Linked DNA regions of Homo sapiens: region 1 is linked to region 2. A link means that fine-mapping ties the variant in region 2 to the expression of a gene that starts in the linked region. Tissue or cell type: whole blood. Region 2 holds a variant in brackets; the other region holds the start of a gene. All regions are shown on one strand. Distances are between the middles of the regions. Region 1 holds the start of FCHSD1 (FCH and double SH3 domains 1). Region 2 holds the start of ARAP3 (ArfGAP with RhoGAP domain, ankyrin repeat and PH domain 3).

Region 1 (9,146 bases), 32 kb before region 2:
GCTGGAGTTCTGAAACCCCCTCTCCACGGTGTACACTCACTAAGTTAACACAAAACAAAGATAATGGAGGAGGCCTAAATCATAATCGCCTTTATATGTGGCCTGGTTCCAACAAGCAGGAAGATCTCACCTGATCAGTCCCTGCTGGCTGAAACTGCTGAGGTGGGGTGGGGGAAAATACACCAGGCTCCTGAAGAAACAGCTTCAGGTCTTGCTCCCAGCTTACCTAGGGGTTGGGAAAAGTCAAAGTCACTCATTCACTGACTCACTCTCCAACCCTGTCCCTAGCACTTCTTGGAAGAAAAAGGACAATGTGTGAAGCAAAGAGGGCTGCATTGGGAGGGAAGGGTAAAAAGGATCCCCGGGGAAGCTCTTAGAGGCCACAGCCCTCACCTGGGAGGTTGTCTGCTCCCCGCGGTGGGCATGCTCCAGGATGACCTCTGCGGCTTCCAGCTCAGTGTGGCTCAGGGAGGTCAGGGGGTCCCTCAAGTGCTCTGACAGCTCACTGACCAGGGCCTAGAGAGAACCCCAAGATACTGACACCACCCTTCCCCCAGACCTCTACTGTAAAATAGGCTCGTTCCAGATTTGACAGGTGATGGGCATGAGGTATAGGAAGGAGAGAAGAAGACATTCTTCATGAGAAAGGCCCTCGTGTGCAGAGCACTTAGAAGTTTAAAACACGTTCACATCCATTCTCTCCTTTGAGCCCCACTAGTGCTATAAGATAGGCAGAGAAAGGGTTATCCCTGATGAGGAATCTGGGGTTCGGAAGAGTTTAAGTGTACTGTACAATGCCATGCAGCCAGCTAGGAGCAGAACCAGAGTGCATGTATGTATCATCTACTCACTCTAAACAGACAAGATCCCCTGCACCACCCACTGTCATGGGGATCAAGAAGCAGGGGGAGGTCCTCCTTTCCCTCCCTGCTGAGGGATAGGGGTGTCTGGGTTAAAACTGGCCTTGAGCAGAGCTGGCAGTTCCTCCTGGTAGTAATGGTCGAGGTGGGCATTGGTAGCCACCAAGTTAAGCAGGTACTCATTGCGGGCTGCTTGCAGCTGCTGGGAGTACTGGGCTGACTGGGCGGACAGCTAGGAGGGTAAACTGATGTCAATAGGAAGCCCTAGACCCCCAGAGTCCTTCCAAGACCAATTGAGAAGCCAGATCCAGAATGGATTCTCACATTATTGAGTGCTTACTATGTGCCTGGCACTACACTAAAAATGTTGCATACACACAACTCCTGCTCAAAATCTTCTAGTGCCTTCTGCACGCATTTAAAATAAAATCCACTGTTCCTTACCATGGTCCACCACGTTCAATATGAGCTGGCCCCCGCAATCTCTCTGACCTCTTTTCAAGCGCTTGTTCCCTTGCTCACAGTACTCCAGCCATACTGGCCCTCTCTCAGTTCCTCGAGCCTACAAAGTTATTCCCACCTCAGACCCTTTGCACTCACCATTTCTTCTCTCTGCAATGTTCTTCCCCTAGATCTTTGCAAGGCCAGCTCCTTCTTGACAGTTAGGCCACCTATTCAGAGAGGCCTCCCTCTAAATTCTACCCCCTTGTTATTCTTTATCATAGTACCTTGTTTTATTTTCATCTTAATCTAAGTATTTATTTGCTGTCTGTCTCTCTTAACCAGACTGTGAGGGCAGGAACTCCATTGGTAGTGTTCTCCACTGTATCCATAATGTCTAGAACAGTGCCTATTATATACAGATCCTCAATAAATGCATATTAAAGGACTGAAAAAGAAGGGTATTCTCTCCATTTTATAGAAGAAAATAAGGCTCACAGAGATCAAGTAAATTAACCAAGGTTACCCACCCAGGAAGTAGGAGAGCCTGGATTCAACCCAGTCTTTCATACATATGCACCTATGTTCCAAACCACTAGACTACTCTGCCTCCCTCTTCCCTGCCCCCACTCATGCCCTCATCCCTCGAACCTTGGTGCTCAGTTTCTGGAGACTGGTCCGAGAGTGGAAGATCCCATGGTCACTTCGGTTTAGCCTGTGCAGATGAGAGAAAGGAGTCAGGCCCACCCCAAGTGGGAGAATATGAGATCAGAGTCAGGCCCAGCTTTGGTGACTTGGCTCCACCCCTAGACAGCCCCACCTCCCTGTTCCCCAACCTTGGGCTTCCTCACTCTCCATGACCCCACCTGGCCTGGACATCAGCCGCCTTCTCCTGTGCCAAGGCCCACACACGTTCCCGCTGCCCATACAGCTTCCGACTTCGGCTCAGCTCCCGGACAGACTGCAGCACCTCAGCCTGCGCCCTCTGGAGGTTCTCTGTTCCCTATTGGGATGCATACACAAAGTCCTTACCTAGACCACCTTTGGTCCCAAGCCAGCTCTTCCTTCACCCCAACCTCTGAGCCATACCTTCCTAAGCACCTGCTCCTTGGCGCTCCGCCCTGTACCCCCTGCTAGGTCACGGTATCGGTCAGACGCCTGGAGTCGGGTTTGGCCCCCAGCCACGGTGGCATCCAGCAGGCAGCGCCAGGCACCGAACACTGTCCTGCCCCTCCCCAGAGAAGGTCTGTGTTGAGGAGGAGAGCACTCCACAGCTTCATGAGACCACCCCCACCCCCTGCCCCCTGACCAACACCATGGGAGACAGAGTGCTTTCCCATCCTCCCTTGTCTGGGAGCCCATCAATCGATCAGCCCATTAGCTCAGCCACAAGCCTCACTCCTGCCCTCCACCCCACCCACAGTGTCCTTGCTGGGTCAGCTCCTCTGCTGCTGCTGTGTCAGCTCTACCTACAGCTCACGTGCCTTCCCCACTTGCTAGGCCTTCATCCCCACAGGTTCCTGGGGCTGAGCTCCCCATCACTTTTTGGCCTCTGTGGCCCTCCCCCTCCATAGGGCCCACCTGCTGTCCATCTCACCGCTCCGGTGCCCTTCCCTCTTCAGGAATGGGCCAGCCAGTTTCTGGAGTGCCTGGTGAAAAAGCCATCACAGAACCAAGTTCCCTTTCAAAGACCCACCCCAACTGGCAGAATATGACATCAGAGTATAATCATACCATTCTTTGGGTACATTATGTGCCACTTGCTTTGCTAAATGCCTTATAGTCATTAATTTGTTTAATCCTTACAACAACCCTACATGAAGGTAAGGTATTATTATTATTCCCATTTCACAGAGAAAGAAACTGAGGTCAAGAAAGGTTAAGTAACTTGTCCAAGGTCACATGGCTATAATTACACAGCAGGGATCTGACACCAGTCTGCTTGACTCTAGGCATCTGCTCTTGACCACAATAGGGATAGGTATGGACAGACATTACTGGTGATATAAGAGAGGCTGGAACAAGAGGTAAGGTCCAGAGAAAAGTCCCATACCTGCCCATACTCCCGTTCAATGGCTGCCCTCTGCTTGCTGTAGGATCTGCGGAGATTGCAGGTCGGGGGTGAGGTGGGGGATAAGGTTATGTTTGGTCCTGTTCTCCCATCCTCAGTCCTCTACTCTGGGCAGGAGGGAGCGGTTGGGGGGAGCCAGGTTCCTAGAGTGTAACTACACCCAGAGGGAATGGGACTGATGGGAGTCCTTGAGATCACCTCGGGCAGCTGCAACACAGGAAACCCTCACCTTACTGCCCCGGGCCCCAGCAGGATCCTCCCCACCCCAGAGGTTCATCTGTAGGCTTAGAGGTGAAGACTGATGGGGGCCTGGGTACGATGTCTGCCAGCCTTCCAACAGGTCTGGAAGAGGGAGAGGGATTCTGCCCTAAGGTTGATTGTGGGGTTGGGGGCAGTGGTGTGGAGTCAAGGGCTTTGAGGGAGGGTTCCTGTGTGTTTATGTGGGTGGGAGGGGGTTGGGAGGGGTTAGGTGGGGGAGCATTCCTATCCAGTATCTGGAGAGGCCAGGCCTAGGGTGAGGGCTGTGGATGGGTCGGCTGGGGAGCTCTTGGCCCCTGTTCCTCCACCCCAGCACATGTATATTGGGGAGAAGTGGCGCACAACGACGAAGGTGAGTGTAAATGAAGGGGGTTGGGGGAGCTACCTGATGTCCTCCAGCAGATCCGCCTCCCTCTGCTGCCAGGTCTGAAGGATGCTCAGCTGTTCCAGGAAGCGAAGCTTCACCTCCTGGGCCGGCTTCACCTGTGGGGGCAAAGAGAGGATGAAGACCCCAGCGCAAGGACCTAAAAAACACTCCGCGCAGGGAGCGGTGAGGGGGCGGGGCCGGGGGGGTGCTGAGCTCTTTCCTCTGTTACTTCTGGTTTGGGGTCTGACCCCTTCCGACTTCCCGTCTCCTACCACAAGTCGGATGCCCCCTTAGCTCCCTCCGTTCCCCCAGCCCGCCAGGAGTCCCCATTCAGGGCCAAGCTCACTTTTCGGGGCGGCGGCTGCATCTCCGCTCCAGCAAGGCGGTCAGCCACTGGACTCCGGAACTGGAGGAAGCCCCGCCCACTATGGAGCCCCGCCCCAGGCCAGGTCAGGCCCCGCCCTCTGCCCGCCCACGACTTGTCCGGCGACGTCGCAGGGCGCGGAAGCGAGAGGGGGCCACCGAGAAACTAAACCTGTTACTGCTGCGAATACGCCGGCAGGGTCCGGGTGGCGGGGCGGGCGGGGCGGACGCAGCGTCCGCTGGGCGGTGGGAAGAACCCCAGGCATCTGAGTCAAGACGCCTAAGTTCTATTTGTAGTGTAACCACTGATTCAGCCTGTAATTATTGATAATTATTCATTTGCATATGTAGATCCCCAGTCCCCGAGCTAATGATGAGGAATGGAGAGGAATTCAGTGTGTGACCAGGGAAACTGAGTCACTGGGCACCTGAGCAAAGATGCATCTGACGAAGAGAGGGCTGGTCCCAGACCTTTTCCTAATTCCCGCTTAACTGGAAAAGCCAGCGTGAGCGGGGTGAGAAAGATGCCTGGATCCAGGAAGGAACCAGGCCCAAAGGGAAAAAGACTTGGCCCCACTGAAAACTAAACGATACCAGTGAGTCGGCGAGAGCTGGGAGATGCGCAGGAAGCCCCTGCCACCTTTAGGATCTTCCAGCCCTAGCACTGCTTCCTGAGGAGCCTCTCCCCAATTCCTCATCCTCCTCACCTAAGCTTCTTTGGCTCAGGCACCTGTCCCAGTACCCCTGACATGTCTCAAAACTCCAGATTCACATTCCAACTCCCCACTGACACCTCTGCTAGTATATCTAATAGGAACCTCAACTTTTAAAGCTTTTAAACCTCCTTCAACCTGATCCTCCCCCCGTAACGTTTTAAATGGCACCGCATTTCCTCCAGTCAGTTAAGTCAGAAACCCAGAGTCAATGTGCCTTCTCCTACCCCTACATTCTATCCATCAGTAAGTCCTACAGGTTCTATTTCAAACAACAATAAACAAACAAAAACCTCTTGATCCACTTCCCTCAATTTCCAAGACCACCATCCTAGTCCAAGCCCCCATTATTAGACTTCTGGTCTAATATCTGATCTCCTTGCTTCCACACTGCCCTCACCCCAACCCACTGTTCACACAGCACTCAGAGTGATCAACCTTTTTTTTCTTTTTTAAAGGGAAATAAGATCTCATAATTTACTTGCTTAAAATGCACTTGCTTCAGAATAAAATCCAAATAGAATCCATGGCCTTCAAGGCTACGCATGGAAGACCCTGCTGGTCTTTCTTACTTCAGCCTGTACTCTCCTCCCACTGTCTGCTCACTGTGCTCCAGCCTCTTTGCTGTTCCCTCAGTAGACCAAGTCCCTTCCAATGCAGAGTTCTTCATGCCTGCTTTCTTTCTCCAGAATCTCCTCCTTCCAGCGTTCCATCTGTCGCCTCCAACAGCTTCTTTCCCTTACTTTGCAACTCTTCACAGATGCCTTCCCCATCCACCCATCCAAAGACCATCTCCACAATCACTCTTTTTTTTTTGAGATGGAGTCTTGCTCTGTTGCCAGGCTGGAGTGCAATGGTGCAATCTCGGCTCACTGCAACCTCCACCTACCAGGTTCAAGTGATTCTTCTGCTTCAGCCTCCCGAGTAGCTGGGATTACAAGCACGTGCCACCACAACCAGCTAATTTTGTATTTTTAGTAGAGACAGGGTTTCACCATCTTTGCCAGGATGGTCTCAAACTCCTGACCTCAGGTAATCCATCCCCCTCAGCCTCCCAAAGTGCTGGGATTACAGGTGTGAGCCACTGCGCCTGGCCTCCACAATCACTCTTCAAGCTCATCACTTTGGTTCAGTTTCTTCACAGCACTAAACTCACTTGTTCAAGTACTGGTTTATGTGTTTATTTGCTATTTTCTGTTCCCCTCCACAACGGAGGATTCATAAGAGCAGGGGCCCTGTTTGTTTTGTTCATGCTATATCCCCAGACCTGGCACCAATTAGGTGCACAATACATATTTGTTGAATGAATGAATGAGAATGGTAGTCTTTTGGTTCCCAGGTTTATTGACAATTACTCATCTATTTTTGACTCCCCGAGTCCCAGCTCCCAAACTCGCTCTCCCTACTCCAGGCTTCACGGTAGTCCCAGAATGTAGGAAGTGGGACAGGATAGACTTTAACATCACCCAGGCCTCTGGTTTCCAAAGCATTTTTTTTCTTTAATGCAGTAAAACCATTCCTTTAAAACCCAAAATCTCTCATGGAACCCCTACGTATCAAATATATAAAGCAGGAGCTGCCCTTGTTCAGGGATAATATGTGGGGCTTATGGCTCTAAGAAACACAGTTTGACATTCACTGCTCTCCTTACTTCAGTTACCTCATGGTATAGATAAATGGGCTGGGCCCAGAGAGGGGCCATGACCTGTCCTGGGACACGCAGCCACTGAAGCCTTTAGTCCAGTGCTCCTTCCACAGCACCACACTGGATTCTGGAGTCTTTCCAGCCAGGGCAGAGGAAGCTGCAACAGTGCCACGATAAGAGTTTCTGGGTCTTCTGGTACCTACCCTCTCAGACTGCTGGTCCTAGGGTCATGTGAGGGGCTGGCTGGAGGGTGGACTGGAAGTGCATGGGGGTTGGGTGGGGAAGCCAGGTGTCTGTGTTGGAAGGCCAGTGGGGCTGGGGGATTGGGGGCTGGATGGCTGGGAAGGACTTCCCAGGCCTGCAGTGGTCTCTCCTTTCCTCAGGATGAGGCTGCTGAGCTCCTGGAGCAGCTGTTCCTCTAGGGACCCCCGTGCCTGGGGACTGCTCTTTGAAGGGGGGCCTGGAGGGGGCTCAGGTGGCCTCTCCTCCTGGCCAAGGGTGCTTGACTTGGAGAGAAAGGGTTGATCCAATGACTTCTGGCTGGTGAGGGGGTTCTCTGGCTTCACTGTCCACTCCCGTGTGGTGGAGAAGGAGGTAGAAGTGTCCTGGATCAACTCAGGGAAGGCCCCTACTTCCTCATACACTGGCTCCTCGTACACAGGCTCCTCCAGCTCCTCTTGCTCCTCCACAGACCCCTGGGATGACTTCATTGGCTGGATGGGAATGGAATGGCAGGAGTGGGCACATAGTTAAAGTTACCAGATTATGAATCACTAACATTTACTGAGCTCTTCCTCTGGGCCAGATGCTGTAAAATACTTGGCATGTATGATTCTGGAACAACCCTGTGCAGTGGGTTACACTGAGTCAACTGAATGCAAAGGGGTTAAGTAAGTTGCCCAGCATCACATAATGAGTGAATGGTAGAGCTGGGGTTTGAACCCAGGTCTGTCTAACTCCAAAATGCATTCACTTCATCACTTTCCTTCTATTTCACAGATTCTGTGACAACTTTTTCCTTTTTTTTTTTTTTTGAGACAGAGTTTTACTCTTGTTGCCTAGGCTGGAGTGCAGTGGTGCGATCTTGGCTCACTGCAACCTCCGCCTCCCAGGTTCAAGTGATTCTCCTGCCTCAGCCTCCCAAGTAGCTGGGATCACAGGCATGCACCACCACACCTAGCTAATTTTGTATTTTTAGTAGAGACGGGATTTCACCATGTCGATTAGACTGGTCTTGAACTCCTGACCTCAGGGGATCCACCCACCTCAGCCTCCCAAAGTGCTGGGATTACAGGCATGAGCCACTGTGCCCGACCTTTCTCCTTTTATTACTGCATCTTACATCCCTCATTTTCCTCATTCTTTCTGGCCTCCTCTCTCTCTCTGTCCTGTCCCTCTCCCTCTCCCTTTTCCTCGCTCTCCCTCTCTCTCTCTCACACACACACACACCCTGATGGCCTACACACACACACACACACACACACACACACACCCTGATGGCCTACACACACACACACACACACACACACACACACACCCCCTGATGGCCTACATGAGGAAAACAGCACACCCGGGGCTCAGGCAGCACAGAGGAATACAGGGTTGACAGGCACACCGCTGGAGCAGGCACAATACTCACAAAGAACATGGACAGGGTCCTCCGGTTGTGTAGTCGCCGCTGGACACAGGTGGGGTGGGGACAAGGGGAAGGAAAGACATAAAGACACAGTGAGGACTAGCAACAGGAGACAGGGGTGGGGAATGGGGGTGAAGAAGGCAGAAGGGAGGGGGACAGTGAGCATAGGGTGGCACCAGGCTAGCAGGCACACCACTGCCTACTGCAATGTGACAAGGGCTACACGACAGGAATCGGGTTGGGGCAGGGTGGGGTGCCTTACCAGGGTCTGATTGGCAGAGAGGAGGGTGGCTCCACTGTCATCCCCACGGATAGGCAGCAAAGGCATAGTGCCAAACTTCTGACGGGCAAGGTCAGAGGAGGAATGGCGTCGTAAGACCACTGGCTGCTGGTCATCGTGCTGGTGGGAGCGTGAGGGGTTGGCATCAGTGGGCATGAAAGGCACTGAGGAGGACAGCTGGGCCCCAGGGGGACCACAGACCCAGCCCTCAGCCTTTTCTTTCCCCTCACCTGGGCTTTAAGGATGCTGGTGGTCCAATCCCACATTTCATCCTCGTCAGTGCAGGACAAGTAGCTGGGGTGATCAGAATGGAATCAGAGGGAGAGAGAGGGTCACAGCTATAGGAATGGAGCATACAAAGAGGGAAGAGAAAAGACAGGGTGCAGAGGTGGGCCAGAGGAGAAGCCAGGGCAGGAGGTACTCACAGGTGCATCTTCTCTAGTATCAATGTGAAGCCCCACCTGGGAGACAAAGAACAGTGATGGGGCAGTCAGAAAGGGCAGGGGGGTGAA
Region 2 (14,168 bases):
TATATAACATTGCATCCAATAAAAAACTCTTGTTGGACAGGTACGGTGGCTCACGCCTGTAATCCCAGCACTTTGGCAGGCGGATCACGAGGTCAAGAGGTCGAGACCATCCTGGCCAACATGGTGAAACCCCGTCTCTACTAAAAGTACAAAAATTAGCTGGGTGTGGTGAAGCGCACCTGTGGTCCCAGCTACTTGGGAGGCTGAGGCAGGAGAATCACTTGAACCCAGGAGGCAGAGGTTGCAATGAGCCGAGATCACACCACTGCACTCCAGCTTGGGTGACAGAGCAAGACTCCGTCTCAAAAACAACAAAAAAACTCTTTTCTTGACTCAGCTTCCTCTAGCAACAATAGTTCCAACTCTCTGCTCTTCTTTGCAGAAAAATTCCTCAAAAGACACTGTCTGTACTTTTCTATTCTCCCTTAAAACCCACTCTCATCGAGCTTTCACCCCATCACTCTGAGACTGTACTTGTCAAGATCCCCAGTGACCTCCAATTCCAAGGGTGAATTCTAAGTCCTATCATACTCAGCAGCAGACCCCTCAGCAGCGTAGGACACAGCTGGCCTCTCCCTTCTTCTTCTACATTTTCCTCACTTTGCTCCTATGACATCACATTCTCCTGGCCTTCTACTTTGCTATTTCTCTTCTGTCCGTTTTGCAGATTCTTCCGCTTCTCCCAAACCTCTAGATATGGGAGTGCACAAGGGCTTTGATCTTGGTCCTCTTCTCTATCTGCACTCACTCACAGCTCTATGCACCCATCTAAGTGCTGACAACTCTCAAGTTTAGGTCTCCAGCTCCGACCTCTCTCTAGACTCTAAGCTCGTCTACCCAGTGGTCTATTTTCACCTCTTCTTGGAGGCATAACTTACACCTCAAATTCAACACATCCAGAACTGCACTCCTAATCTACCCTCTCCTCCCAGCTGCCTGAACACAGTCTTCCCCATCTCAGACCGTGGCGGCTCCAGGAACTTTCAGGTGCTCAGGACAGTGCTATCCAGCAGAAGTTAATGCGAACCAAGTATGTAATTTTAAACTTTTCAGTAGCCACGTTTAAAAAAATTAAAAGAAACAGGTGAAATTAATTTTAATAATATATTTTATTTAACCCAATATATCCTAAACATTAACATTTTAGTATGTAATCAACATAAAAATTACTATTTTTTACTACATAAAAATTCTGTAATCAACATAAAAATATAAACATAAGATAATTTATGTTTATATTTGTTATATTCATCCAGTATTGCTTTTTCTCATATTAAGTCTTTGAAATCTAGCAGGTGTTTTACATTTATTGTGCATCTCAAAGGATACTAGCCGCATTTCATAGGCCCAGTAGTCACATGTGGCTAATGGCTACCATACTGGTCAGCACCAGCTCAGATGGAAGCCCTCAAAGTCATTCTTGACTGCTCTTTTTTTCTCACATCCCAAGTTAATCTGACAGTTTGCCTTCAAAATAAAGCCACTTCTCATCATCTCCACTACTATCACTACACTCTGAGGTCTCTCACCTACATTACTACAAAAACCTCCCCACTGGTCTCTCTGCTTCTCCTTTGGCCCCCTACAGACCACTCCCAACATAGCAACCAGGGGGATCCCTTTATAAAGTCAAAACCCCTCAATGGCTTCCCATTTCACTTAGAGTAAAAGCCAAAGTCCCTTATCTGGCCCCTTGTTTTTGTTTTTTTGGTTTTGTTTTGTTTTTTGTTTTTGTTTTTTTTGTTTTTGTTTTTGTTTTGAGACAGGGTCTCACTCGGTTGTCCAGGATGGAGGGCAGTGGCATGATCTTGACTTGCTGCAACCTCCGCCTCCCGGGTTCAAGTGATTCTCCTGCCTCAGCCTCCCTAGTAGCTGGGACTACAGGTGTGCGCCACCACCCCCAGCTATTTTTTTTTTTTTTTGAGACGGAGTCCTGCTTTGTTGCCCAGGCTGGAGTGCAGCGGCACAACCTTTGCTCACTGCAAGCTCCGCCTCCCGGGTTCACGCCATTCTCTGCCTCAGCCTCCTGAGTAGCTGGGACTACAGGCGCCCACCACCACGCCCGGCTATATTTTTTTTGTATTTTTAGTAGACACGAGGTTTCACCATGTTGACTAGGCTGCTCTCAAACTCCTGAACTCAGGTGGTCCGCCAACCTTGGCCTCCCAAAGTGCTGGGATTACAGGCATGAGCCACTGTGCCTGACCCTTATCTGGCCTCTTTTACCTCTCTGACTTCATCTCCTGCCATTCCTCCCACCGTGGCTCACCTGCCCCAGCCAAGATGGCCTGGCCTCCTCACTGCTCCTGGATCCCTTTGGGCACACACCCGCCTTGAGGCCTCTGTTCCAATCACTTGCCCTACCGGGGCACTCTTCCCCAGTTATCTTCATGGCTAACTCCTTCACCTCCTTCAAGTTTTTGATCAAATGTCATCTTCTTAACGCTCCGCTAACTGTAAATGAAAAATTGCAGTCCACCCATTTTGCCCCCAAGCCCTCTTTTTTTTTTTCTTAGTCACTGCTACCTCCACCTCTCCGGTTCAAGCAATTCTCCTTCCTCAGCCTCCTAACTAGCTGGGATTATAGGCGTCCACCACCGCACCTGGCTAATTTTTGTATTTTTAGTAGAGACGGAGTTTCATCCTGTTGGCCAGGCTGGTCTCAAACTCCTGACCTCAGGTGATCCGTCTGCCTCAGCCTCCCAAAGTGCTGGGATTACAGGTGTGAGCCACCATGCCCGGCCAACCCCCCAGCCCTCTTACTCTGCTCTATTTTTTCCATGGCACTTAATACCTTTTAACGTTCTATAGTATTTAATGTATTATGTTTATTGTTAATAGACTATCTCCCCACAAGGGCAGGGATTTCTGTGTACGCTGATCTATCCCAAGCATCTACATCCGGTGCATGATAGTTGCTCAATAAATATTTGTTGAATGAAAAAATGAAAAGCACTTCTCCTGGTTGGGCACAGTGGCTCATGCCTGTAATCCCAGCACTTTGGGAGGCCAAGGAGGTAGGATCACCTGAGGTCAGGAGTTCGAGACCAGCCTGGCCAACATGGCGAAACCCCATCTCTACTAAAAATATAAAAATTAGCCGGGCATGGTGGCACGCACCTGTAATCCCAGCTACTCGGGAGCCTGAGACAGGAGAATCGCTTGAACCCAGGAGGGGGAGGTTGCAGTGAGCCGAGATTGTGCCACTGCACTCCAATCTGGGCAACAAGGCAAGACTCCGTCTCAAAAAGAAAGAAAGAAAGAAAAGCACTTCTCCCAATTTTCCATTATATGACCATTGGTTTGTCTACTTGTTTTATTCCCTGTCTGTCCCACTGAGTCACAAGCTGCCTGAGGGTGGCACTAGGTCTGTGATACTCATCCTGTATCTTGAGTGCCTGGCTGGTGAATACTCAATGCACATTTGTTGAATAACTGGATACATGGCCGCCACCGACTCACCTGCTCCTCCCTCCCACCACTTCCCTATTTAGTACTCACCTGTGTTCAGCCCTGCCCTGACAAACACCTCTGCTCTCTCTTCTGT[C/G]GGGGGCTCCTGGAGTCCCCACAGGTTGGACACCATAGTACAGGCAACCAGGATCCATGATGTGCACTGGCAGGAGGAGAGGGGAACGCACAAGGAAGAGGAGATCGCTGGGAGTGTATGAGGTCCTGCCGGCACTATCCCTCTCCCCCAACCCGTGATAACCCAGTTACCTGTGCCTGTTGTGGGCCTGAGGGCAGGGGTGGGGGCAGAGATTTGGGAGCTGTCTGGGGCCCTGAAGGGAAAGGTCTATTGGTTACTTAAGGAGAGAGGAGGAAGAACAAGCCTTCATGCCCTGCTCCCCGCCTCCGTCCCCCTCATGCTCTCCTCCCCACTCCTCCCAGCATCAGTCCCTAGGGAGCCAACTCCACTCACTTGTCCTGAGCTGCCTGTGCCCTGCCTCTTGAGTCCAGGCCGAAGTAGATGGAATTAGGCATCATCTCCACAGTATTTAGGGCTGAAGACTGCTCAGAGGAGGAAGTGGGGAGAGGAGGAGGCCTTGGGCTGGGCTCTGGGCTCCTGGACACTCCTGGTCCCCCGAGGGCTGGGCTCAGCCCAGGTCTCTGAGTGGTGGCAGGGCCACTGAGTCCACCAAACACGGTCCTGGGCTTCGGCACGGGCTTAGGGGGCTGGGCTTGCGGGGCTGGGCTGGGGGATGGTTCCATGGCACTATCTGATTTGGGATCCAGGGAGCCCTCTTCGGTGCCTGTCTGTAGCAGGCGTAGAATGCGTTTCCGGTGCCCTGTGGCGCTGATGCCCAACTGCTTCAACTCCTCGTGGCCCAGGCCCCGGGCTGCACCTGCTGTAGCCAGGCCATGCCGTCGGAACGTGTCTGCATACTGCTCCAGGTGCACCGTGGCCAGCCACACAGCGATGTCCAGGTCCTGAGGGGCAGCCATGGGGGCTCAGGCCATTGCTGGGGGGAGGGGCAGGGTGAAGGGAGGGCTCAGGCTGAGAATCCCCCTCTCTGCCCCAGAGTCTGAGGCCTGGACAGTGAGCACCAGCCTCCAATCTTCCTCCAAAGAAAGATGCTGAAAGGCCTGCGATCTGGAAGCAGAGCCATCCCAGAACAACAGCAATGGCTCTCTACTTAGGGAAGGGACTTCATTTGAAGTTAAGGAAACTGAGGCCCAGAGAGGGGAAGGGGCTTGCCCCAGGTTCACAGTAAGTCAGTGCTAGAGTTGGCCCCTCAGTTCCTGCCCACCCTGGGTCTGGGTCAAAGCTCTGCTCCTGCCTGACTGCACATCCAACTGAGTAAGCATGGGACAAGATGCTAGAATGCTGTGGGTCAGAGTGGGATAGGGAGATGCAGAGGAGGGGCCAATGATGTGGCCAATCAGCTCTGGAGTAAGGTAGGGAGAGGGGCAGCCTAGATAGGAGGAAGGAGGTGCAGACGCCCCCTCCCTCTTGTTTCCAGAGCCGATGTATGCAGGCCTGCCGTCCTAATCCTGGTTGTTCCCAGTCCCTCCTCCCCTTCCACCTATTGTCTCTGCTCAGACTTCCTTCCTGTCCCTCCAGCCCTGGCCGCCTCCACATCCTGCCTGCTTTGGTCAGGCTGCCGGGAGAGCCCTAACCAGTCCTAATGTGTGGGGTCCCGGCCCTGGGTGGAGGCTAATTGAAGAATAAGGATGGGGATGCCAGAGAGATGAGGCCTGACCTCTGGTCAGGGGTACTCCAGAGGCTTCTGGACTCTCTGCCCACCGGCAGCATGTTCACATGCTGTTCACCTGTGTGTGCACATGCCCTGTAGCGATTTGGCAGTGTGAAATGCCATCCCCCCACCTCTGCTTTCTCCAAGCCTTCCTTTTCTGAGCTTGCCTTTTCCCTGCTCATTCCCTTGGGCTCAGGTCTCTGTGCTCTGTCCCCCTTCCACCAGCCTGACCCCGACCCTGACCCTGGTCTATTTCATAGACCTGTCTCTAATTCTGTGGCCCCTGAGTTTTATCTCTGCCTTGTCACTGTCCCTGCCCCATTCCATCTCAACCTCTCAATTCTTCTTTGTCCCTCTCCTTGTCCCACCCTGTTTTGCTCTCTGTTATTAAGCTTGTCCTTGACTCAGTCTACAATTCTAACCAGATCTTGAGTTGTATCTGTGTCTCTGTCTGCCTCTGAGCCTGGGTTTCTGTCTTCCGCCTCGGCCTAGGCTCTCTCCCTGTTACTCTTGTGCTCTGTCGGTGACCAGGACGCCCTCTCCGTCCCAGCATCACTGCTGGCCTCCCTCTGCCTCTCTCCAGCTGGGCCTCATTCCCAAGCCAGGGCCCGCGTGCTGAGCCTCGGGCCCTGACTCAGGGCCCGGTTTCCCGGTGACTCAGGCCGGGCTCGACAGCACGGGGCTGGGAGCTGAGGTGCTCGCGGGACAGGAGTGGCGGGGGCGGGGCGGGCAGTGGCGGGCAGCGCAGGCTGCGACGAGGGAGGGGGCGAGGAGGGATGGGGCAGAGGCCGGGCAGCAGGAGGGAGGGGCGGGTCGTGGCAGGGATGGGGAGGGCCGCCGGCGCCGAGGGGGCCTGGGAGCCCACGAAGGCCCTCGAGAAGGTGATGGGGAGGAGTCTGGGAAGCAGGGACCCGGGGGGCGCGGGGGTCCTCACCTCACTACGCGGCCGCCGTCCGCTCGCGGGTGCCCGCCGCTCGTCCGAGGTTCTGGGTCCCGCCGCGCCGGCCCCGCCTCCCCTCTGCCCTCCCTCGACGGGCCCAGCCCCGCCCCGCCCGGCCGGTTCCCTCCGCGGGGCCCCGGCCACTCCTTGTGCAAGCGCAGGCCTCCAAAGGGTTTGGGCTTCTTGCCCAACCGCCGCGCTTATCTCCGAGTCTGCCCCCAGTCTGCCCTCTCGCAGGCCGAGAAAGGACCAGAACACGTTGGGACGAAGACAACCTCAGGGAGAGGGACAAAGAGGCAGAGACCGGGACGGAGACTGGGACGGAGGTAGAAACTGAGAAAGGGAGAGTGCCAGGGACGGCTTTGCATCCTCTCCGCTGCTCCCATGCCCTCCAGTCCTGCCAAAAGGGAGGAGGAAAGGTCGAGCCCTAATCCCCCAGGGCACCTCTCCCACGCCCGGAAGGGTGGCTGGACCCTGGCAACCAGTTTAGTGTGGGGACGGAAGCTGGACATCCAGAATTGAGACTTGGCCTGGGCAACAAGCGCAGAGGCCCAGCAGAGGGGTACCCGTCTGTTTCTCCCCACTTCCATCCCCAAGGGCCCGGCCTAGGTTCCTTCGAGGGATGAAGGTCCGCAAGGCACATCCCTACTTCCAAACCAAGGTTTGGGGCTGCCTTTTTGGGACAGGCGGACGCCCTGCAAGCTCAGTGACCAAGCAAGCAGCTGTTTCATTCATGGGAGAAGCCGCCCCTTCTCCCCAACTCCCACCCTAAAATTTCAGGGGGGATGCCGGGGAGGCCTGAAGAGGAATGGCCCTTCTCTCCTTCGCTAATCTTGCCGGAACCCCGGTCCTGGAGCCTGTCTCCCAGGGGCGGAGGCACTTCCCTCTCTGAGCAGGACCAGTGTTTGGGTGTGGGGGGGGGGTGTTTGTGTGTGTGTGTGTGTGTGTGTGTGTGTGTGTGTGTGTGTGTGTGTGTGTGTATGTGTTGGGGGTGGCGGGGGCGCTGGCCGGCTGTGTTTTCCTGTTTGTATGAGAGGAAGTTGGCTGTGAGTCAGCAGACACAGGAACTGTCAGTAGCTAGGGGAAGACCCCTGCCTCAGGGGAAGAAGAGGGGAGTGGGAGGAAGTGGTTCCCACCTCTTCCAGCTGCCTCAGCTAGGGGAGGGACTGTCATCTTCAACCTACTGGAGCCCCACTTTCCCGGCCTTCCCTTTGAGAAAGAGAATTATAGTAATAAAATAATAATTGCAATAGCCATAATAAGGGCTACCAATTATTGAGAGCTGACCGTGCTCCAGGATCTATGTAAACATTGCTTTGCAAACTTTAATCCTCACAAATATCCCTACAAATAGGAAATTTTATCACCTCTATTTTACATATAAGGAGACAGGGAGCATTAAATAACTTGCTCAAGACTCTGCAGCTAGAAAATAGCCAACCCTCCAAGTCTATATCTATAACTACCATGCTCACCTACCACCCTGGACAGGACCCCTGCACCATGTCCTTTTTTTCAGATGGGCAACTGTGGTGGCAGTGAGAATGCTCCTCACAGATCTTACACTGTGAGGAGTGAAATTAACCAATGGCCCCAGCTGCTTCTCTCTGAAATCTAAGGCCAGCTTCCCACTGGGCTGCTCCCAGCCAGTGACAGAGCTCAGCAGAGATCTAAGGCAGACCCATTCCTGGGAGATAGGGGACTCCTTTGACAGCTGACTTTGGATCAAGATTTCCCAATGGCTTTGCTGAACTTTCCTTTGACTGGTGTTTTAGGATGCTCCTCTCAACCTTTATTCCTTCCCTCTCTCCTTCACAGCTCTCCTAGCTCCAGGCTCCCTTCCTCTCTCACAGGCATCTCCCCTAGTCAAATCCTTGCATTCTGCCTTGGCAGCTTCTTCTTTAAGGACTCAGACTAACCCAGCAAAATAAGGGAGCAGGAAAAGACAGTAAAGGGCACAGGGAGTTTTGAGGAATGGATGCCGGGGAGTTTGGGTCAGGGGCTAGATGCAAGAGTTCTGAACCTTTTTGTGCCATGTTCTCCTTTGGCAATACGGTAAAGTATGTGGTCTCATCTCAGAATAATATTTTAAAATGCATAAAATAAAATATATAGGATTGCAAAGGAAACCAATTATGTTGTAATACACATATAAAACCGATGTGATATAGTAATATATGTGCTTCTTTATTAATGCTTTAAATAAGATCTAGTGGTAGGTTGATACCTCACATAACTTTGATGCAGTGATGAGCATAAATGGTATTTCAAAAGATCTGCAATATTGTAATATGATATAAAAATATATGTGATTTCTACTGGTGACAAAGCCATAGTTATGGCTAAAATGACTGGTTTGTTGCTATTGTCATAATTGGAGGAAATGTTAAATTTCAGCTAGAGATTAGTGAAAGTAATATTCTTTTCCCATCCAAGTCCACTGACTCCAAGTTAAGGACACCAATGCCAGATGATGGGGCAGAGCCACAGAGAGGGAGACCTGGCTTCCTCCCTCAGACCCCACTTCCCTTCTTTGGCTCAATGATATGGGGCAGGTGGAGGCTTCTGGCCCCTGGCTTGTGTCTTCCTGAGTTCAAGCAATTCTCGTGCCTCAGCCTTGTGCCTCAGCCTCCCGAGTAGCTGGGATTACAGGTGCCTGCCACTACACCCAGCTAATTTTTGTATTTTAGTAGAGACAGGGTTTCACCATGTTGGCCAGGCTGGTCTCAAACTCCTGTCAGGTGATCCATCCACCTCAGCCTCCCAAAGTGCTGGGATTACAGGCGTGAGCCACCATGCCCGGCCGAAATTAGTAAATCTTAAATCTTAATCTTAACACATAGGACAAAAGGGACACTAGTGAGCAGAGGAAGAGGAAGAATGAAGCAATGAGGAGATGTGGAAGGGAATTCTTCAATAGCCCCTTCCATGTCTCGATTTGTTCCCCACTCAAATGATAGACTATTAAGCCACAATCACTTTGGAGGCCACTTTGTTCACCAAAAGTGGATGGTATGCAGTAATTAAGAACAAGGTCTCTCGGCTAGGCACTGTGGCTCACACCTGTAATCCCAGCATTTTGGGAGGCCAAGGCAGGAGGATTGTTTGAGAGCAGGAGTTTGAGGCCAGCCTGGGCAACATAGCAAGACCTCGTCTCTACTAAAAATTTTAAAATTAGCCAAGTGTGGTAGTGTGCACCTGTAGTCCCAGCTACTCAGGAGGTGGAGGTGGGAGGATTGCTTGAGCCAGGAGGTGGAGATTGCAGTGAGCCGAGATCGTACCACTGCACTCCAGCTTGGGTGACAGTGAGGCCTGTCTCTAAAAACAAAACAAAACACCACCACCAACAACAACAAAAACTAAAACAAAAGGTCAACAAAAAAACAGTCTCTAAAATAAAGCCCTGATGCCACCTCTACCAGCTGTGACCTGAGCAGATTATTCATCTCTATTTTGCCCTGTGTGCCTCAGTTTCCTTTTCTGAAAAAAGGAGAGAGAATAGTGCCTGACAGGGTTGTAAAGATTAATCTATGGAAATATATGGGTAATATGTGGAAAGGACCTGACATTCAATGAGTGCTCAAAGTGTTTCCTGTTCCTTGTTCCTATTTTTGCCAGTTACTTCCATGATAACTCTGGTATGCACCCAGCTTGCCTGTTTCTTCATCACTCTGGCATATCCCGTTACCTATTTTAATCAATCAGCCTGTGGCATCCTATTGCCAAATTAGACCACATTGTACCCCTTGTATTTTCCCCAGGGTCCCCAGTTGTCATCTTGTCTGTTCCATCACTTTTGTAACTCAATTTCCTGTCACCCCTGCAACTCCTGATCGCCTCCATGGTCTCCAGTGGCCTCCAGGTCACACTCCTTTCCTGCCCTTACCCTCTGGATGGTAAAAGGCACAGCCATCACCCACATTTGGTCCTGATGAGATGGGACAGGGCCTAGGGGGATGCCAAGGTGCAAGTTTCTTTTTATTTATTTATTTTTTTGAGACAGAGTCTCCCTCTGTCGCCCAGGTTGGAGTGGAGTGGTGCGATCTCGTATGACTGTAGACTCCGCCTCCCAGATTCAAGCGATTCTCCTGCCTCAGCCTCCCTAGTAGCTGGGATTACAGGCGCCCACCACCACATCCGGCTAATTTTTGTGGTTTTTTTTAGTAGAGACGCAGTTTCACCATGTTGGCGGGGCTGGTCTTGAACTCCTGACCTCAGGTGATCCGCCTGCCTTGGCCTCCCAAAGTGCTGGGATTACAGGCGTGAGCCACTGCGCCCGGCCGAGCATGTTTCTTACAGGAAGGAAGACTCCCATTCAATCCTTTCATTTATTTCTCATGTTTTTATTAATCATCTTTTCTGGACCAACCACTGCTCAAGGGTTTAGAGATGCAATGACGTGCTCAGCAGACTTTAGGGAACATGACCTGCTCAAGAAGTGAGACATTTATCAAACAACCCCCAAATAAATGTGTAATTACAAACCAAGATGAATTTTCTGAAGGGAAGCACTGTAAGAGCATATAACAGAGGCAGCTGACCTGGCCTGGGGGTCTGGGAGGCTTCTGCAGGGAGCTCTGCTTAAGTTGAGATCTCAGAAAGATGGGTAGGAGTTAAGCGGGATGGGAGGGAGTGTTCTAGGCAGAAGAACCACGAGTGCAAAGGCCCTGAGGTAGGAGTCAGCCTGGTGAGGAAGGGAGACAGATCAAAGAGACAGGGAGTTTGGGACCAGCTGAGACTGAAAGGATCTCAGGGGCCAGGCCATGCAGGCCCTTGGAGGGCTTGTATGAGATTTGGTCTCCATGCCAGGAGCCATGGGGAGCCAGGGAAGAGTTTAAGCATGGGGCAATAGACTCATGAATTTAGGTTTGAATTTTAGGAAGATGGCTGCATGGAGACTGGTTAGGGTCAGCACAGCCCTCCCTACCCCTAATTCCTCTGGCCTGAGGGCTGTGCCATTTCCCCCTAGACTCCAGAGCTACCCTCCAGGGAGCCCCTTCCCACTTCCCTCCTCACATTTTTGTGAGGATGAAGTCATCATTGAGGAGAGGAGGGAGTTCCAGGCCTCTACGCCTTCTTTATCCTGGAGAACTGGGGCAGCCCTGGGGTCAGGGGGAGGGAAGGAACAAACACAGAACACCTCCCTTCCCCTGCATCCTCATTCCCATGACTGGGCCCTGTCTCCTTCCACCCTAGGCTATTGACATGAGCTGTATTTACAAGATTTTTAATGCAATTTTACTGCAAAATGTTTTATAAAGGGTATCTAGTACTACAGCTAGTACTAACTCCCCTTAGGGCTTGGGGCAAGTCATCTCTCTTTGGGTCTCAGTTTCTCTATACATAAAATTAATGGCAGTGCTGTTTGATAGAATTTCCTGCAATGATGGACCGTGTTCTCTATTTGTGCTGTCCAGTATGGCAGCCGGTAGCCACATGTGGCCATTGAGAGGTTGAAATGAGGTTGGTGAGCCAGAAGAGCTGAATATTTAATTTAATTTAATTGTAATTAATTTAAATTTAAACAACCACTGGCTGCCAATATTGGACAGCACAGGCAAATCTTAAACTTTTTTGAGACTCTGGTGACAGTTATGGATCTCTCCCTAGAAAAACACCCTGCACCCAACTCTCAAAGACGAGGGCCCTTCCAATCCTATTTATGCATCCCAGGCAAAGCAGACTGTAGACTGCTGGGGCTCAGGTCCCTCATCTCCTCTTCCCTTCCTGCTGCCTTGAAAATGCTGAAATAGGGCTTTGCCTAGAGGCAGGAGAATGACAAGGATGACTCCAGGAATTAGCAGACCTTTGTTTAAAGCTTCTGGTGCACCACTGCACACATCTAAAGAAAGACAGAAGAGTGAAAGCAGGGGTAGGTGCAAGGAGAGTATTAGGGATATTTGGACATGCTCAGTCTCTGCCCTACCTCCCTGCAAACCACCAAATTGCTGCTGGGCCAGTCCTTTTTTGGACACAAAACTCCATCGGAGTGTGAGGCTGTACTCCAGATATGGGGTTGTGCCCTGGGCATGCAGTATTTATGAACTGGGGCTTTGGGAGTGACCAGAGGGGGTGGGGGGGGGGGCTATCTTAGTCCATTTGCATTGCTGTAACAAAATACCGGATACTGGGTTATTTATTTATTTATTTTTTATTTATTTACTTTTTGAGACAGTCTCACTCTGTCGTCCAGGCCGGAGTGCAGTGGCACTATCTGAGTTCATTGCAACCTCCGCTTCCCAGGTTCAAGTGATTTTCCTGCCTCAGCCTCCCAAGTAGTTGGGATTATAGGCATGTGCCACCATGTTTTGCTAATTTTGTGTTTTTAGTAAGGACGGGGTTTCACCATGTTGGCCAGGCTGGCCTCGAACTCGTGACCTCCGCCAAAGTGCTGGGATTACAGGTGTGAGCCACCGTGCCCAGCCAACCGTTTACTCACTCTTGATGTTTTCACTGTCCAGAGCATCTGTGGGTCAGACACTGCCCCCACCCAGGAATATGGAGCCCTGAAGGTGTCAGGAGAATGCACTCCCTGCCTTGCATGGATGCAGTTGTCTACTCCTTGGGAGAAAGATAATATTTTTCTCCCTTCTCACTTCTAGGATCTAATCACTCTCTCCCAGAAAACTCACTGCACAGACCCATTTACAGGGGGCAGTTTTCACTGGGACTTAACTTCCTACCCTCTGATCTCCCCACTCGATTTCTTGACCATGCCTGCCCCTCCCTCATTGCTCAGATGTCCATCTATACTTTCTCTCCCATCTGGAAAGTAGTTGCTTGGTTCCTGTCCCCCGGGGTCTCCATTTCTTTGGCTTCAGCAGAGATGCTGGACTGGTTAAACTCAGGCTCCAGTGGTGACCACAGTGTGGGACACAGACGGGGAAACAGCTTTCAGGAATCCCTTTGTCTTAGGTCTTTGAGAAGCAGAGCCTGTGGTCAGGATTCAGGTGGAAGCCCTGAGCTGAGGGAGAGGAAATGGAGGATGCAAGGTGAGACAGTGCGGTGCCTTCCTGTCCTGCCCTGCTTCACACAAGCCCCTCAGAGACACTGCTGGCTACTCAGCAGGGGTGCTCTCTCTCGGCACGTGGGTGGGACTTCTCCAGAAGGTAAGGAGGAAATCCACCTTGGAGCAGTCCTCAGCTCCCACCCATGACCTGTCTCCCATGGGTCAAGGTTCACCCCACAGAGTCACCTTCCCATGCTTCTGGGTTCTGTTACCCAGCCCTTGGTGGCACTTGGAAACCAGGTTCCACACTGTACAGTGTGGCATTTTATCTAAGTCTGAAAGTAGAGGAGGAGGTAGTGAAGGAATTTGAGAAGAAAGGTTCATGTCTCAGGGCAGCCCATTTCTCATGCCACTGAGATCCACTCAAGTCCTCCCATTATACCTGACTTCTATGCCACCCTACAGGGCATTTTCCCCCACAGGGACAAAGTTGCCCTCACTCTTTCCTCATGAGGGAAAGTACAGTCCACTGGAATCAAGTCCCCTTCCAGAAAATGCCAGATGTGGTCTTAAGGAAGATAAAGAGGAGAGGGCTAATGAAGCAAGCTACAGTCCCACTGCTGTAGCGTGTCTTGAGTCCATAATTGATATTCTCTCCCTCCTTCCGTGACCCTCCGCTAGCCCTCTGCAGATCTGGGCTACTTGCCTGATGAGATTATACAGACGTTCATCCCCAAGAGATCTGATGCCTTTGTTGCCCTGTCCTTTTAGAATTGTTGTTGAAGTTGTCCATTGGCAATTACTACCGGGTGGGAAGTTCCAAGAGATGCCACAGCGAATCCCCTGGCTGGGGCCAGACTCCCCGCCTTCATTGCATCTATGCACATTGTATCTACAGCCCTGGTTCCTCATGGCCATCAGGATCAATGGCCCTGGCCAGCACATTAATGCCCTTCTTTGTCTATTAGCCCACTAGAATGAGGAGCATAAGGTGGCCACGTGGCTGTCACAGCTTCCAGTTTAGTGGAAACTACTGTGTTCTTTCATATAAGTTCTCCCTTCCTGGCAACTAGAAACTCGAATT

What was found.
Region 1: FCHSD1 starts here. The variant in region 2 is fine-mapped to the expression of FCHSD1 in whole blood (INTERVAL, PIP above 0.99).

The regions. Positions count from the first base shown.
Region 1 is chr5:141,647,005-141,656,150 of GRCh38, forward strand. It overlaps FCHSD1 (FCH and double SH3 domains 1), which reads right to left and starts at 4,414. Exons shown (of 20, transcript NM_033449.3): 1 at 4,344-4,414; 2 at 4,016-4,113; 3 at 3,355-3,400; 4 at 2,883-2,950; 5 at 2,391-2,532; 6 at 2,168-2,304; 7 at 1,953-2,016; 8 at 964-1,092; 9 at 394-516; 10 at 131-226. The coding sequence starts at 4,364. ARAP3 (ArfGAP with RhoGAP domain, ankyrin repeat and PH domain 3) reads right to left here. Exons shown (of 33, transcript NM_022481.6): 29 at 9,060-9,095; 30 at 8,865-8,928; 31 at 8,617-8,754; 32 at 8,358-8,396; 33 at 6,398-7,431. The coding sequence ends at 6,946. RefSeq lists an enhancer at 2,436-3,014.
Region 2 is chr5:141,676,044-141,690,211 of GRCh38, forward strand. ARAP3 (ArfGAP with RhoGAP domain, ankyrin repeat and PH domain 3) reads right to left here and starts at 6,187. Exons shown (of 33, transcript NM_022481.6): 1 at 6,130-6,187; 2 at 3,920-4,460; 3 at 3,718-3,779; 4 at 3,502-3,613. The coding sequence starts at 4,443. RefSeq lists a silencer at 6,187-6,236. The variant C/G (reference allele first, on the strand shown) is at 3,548.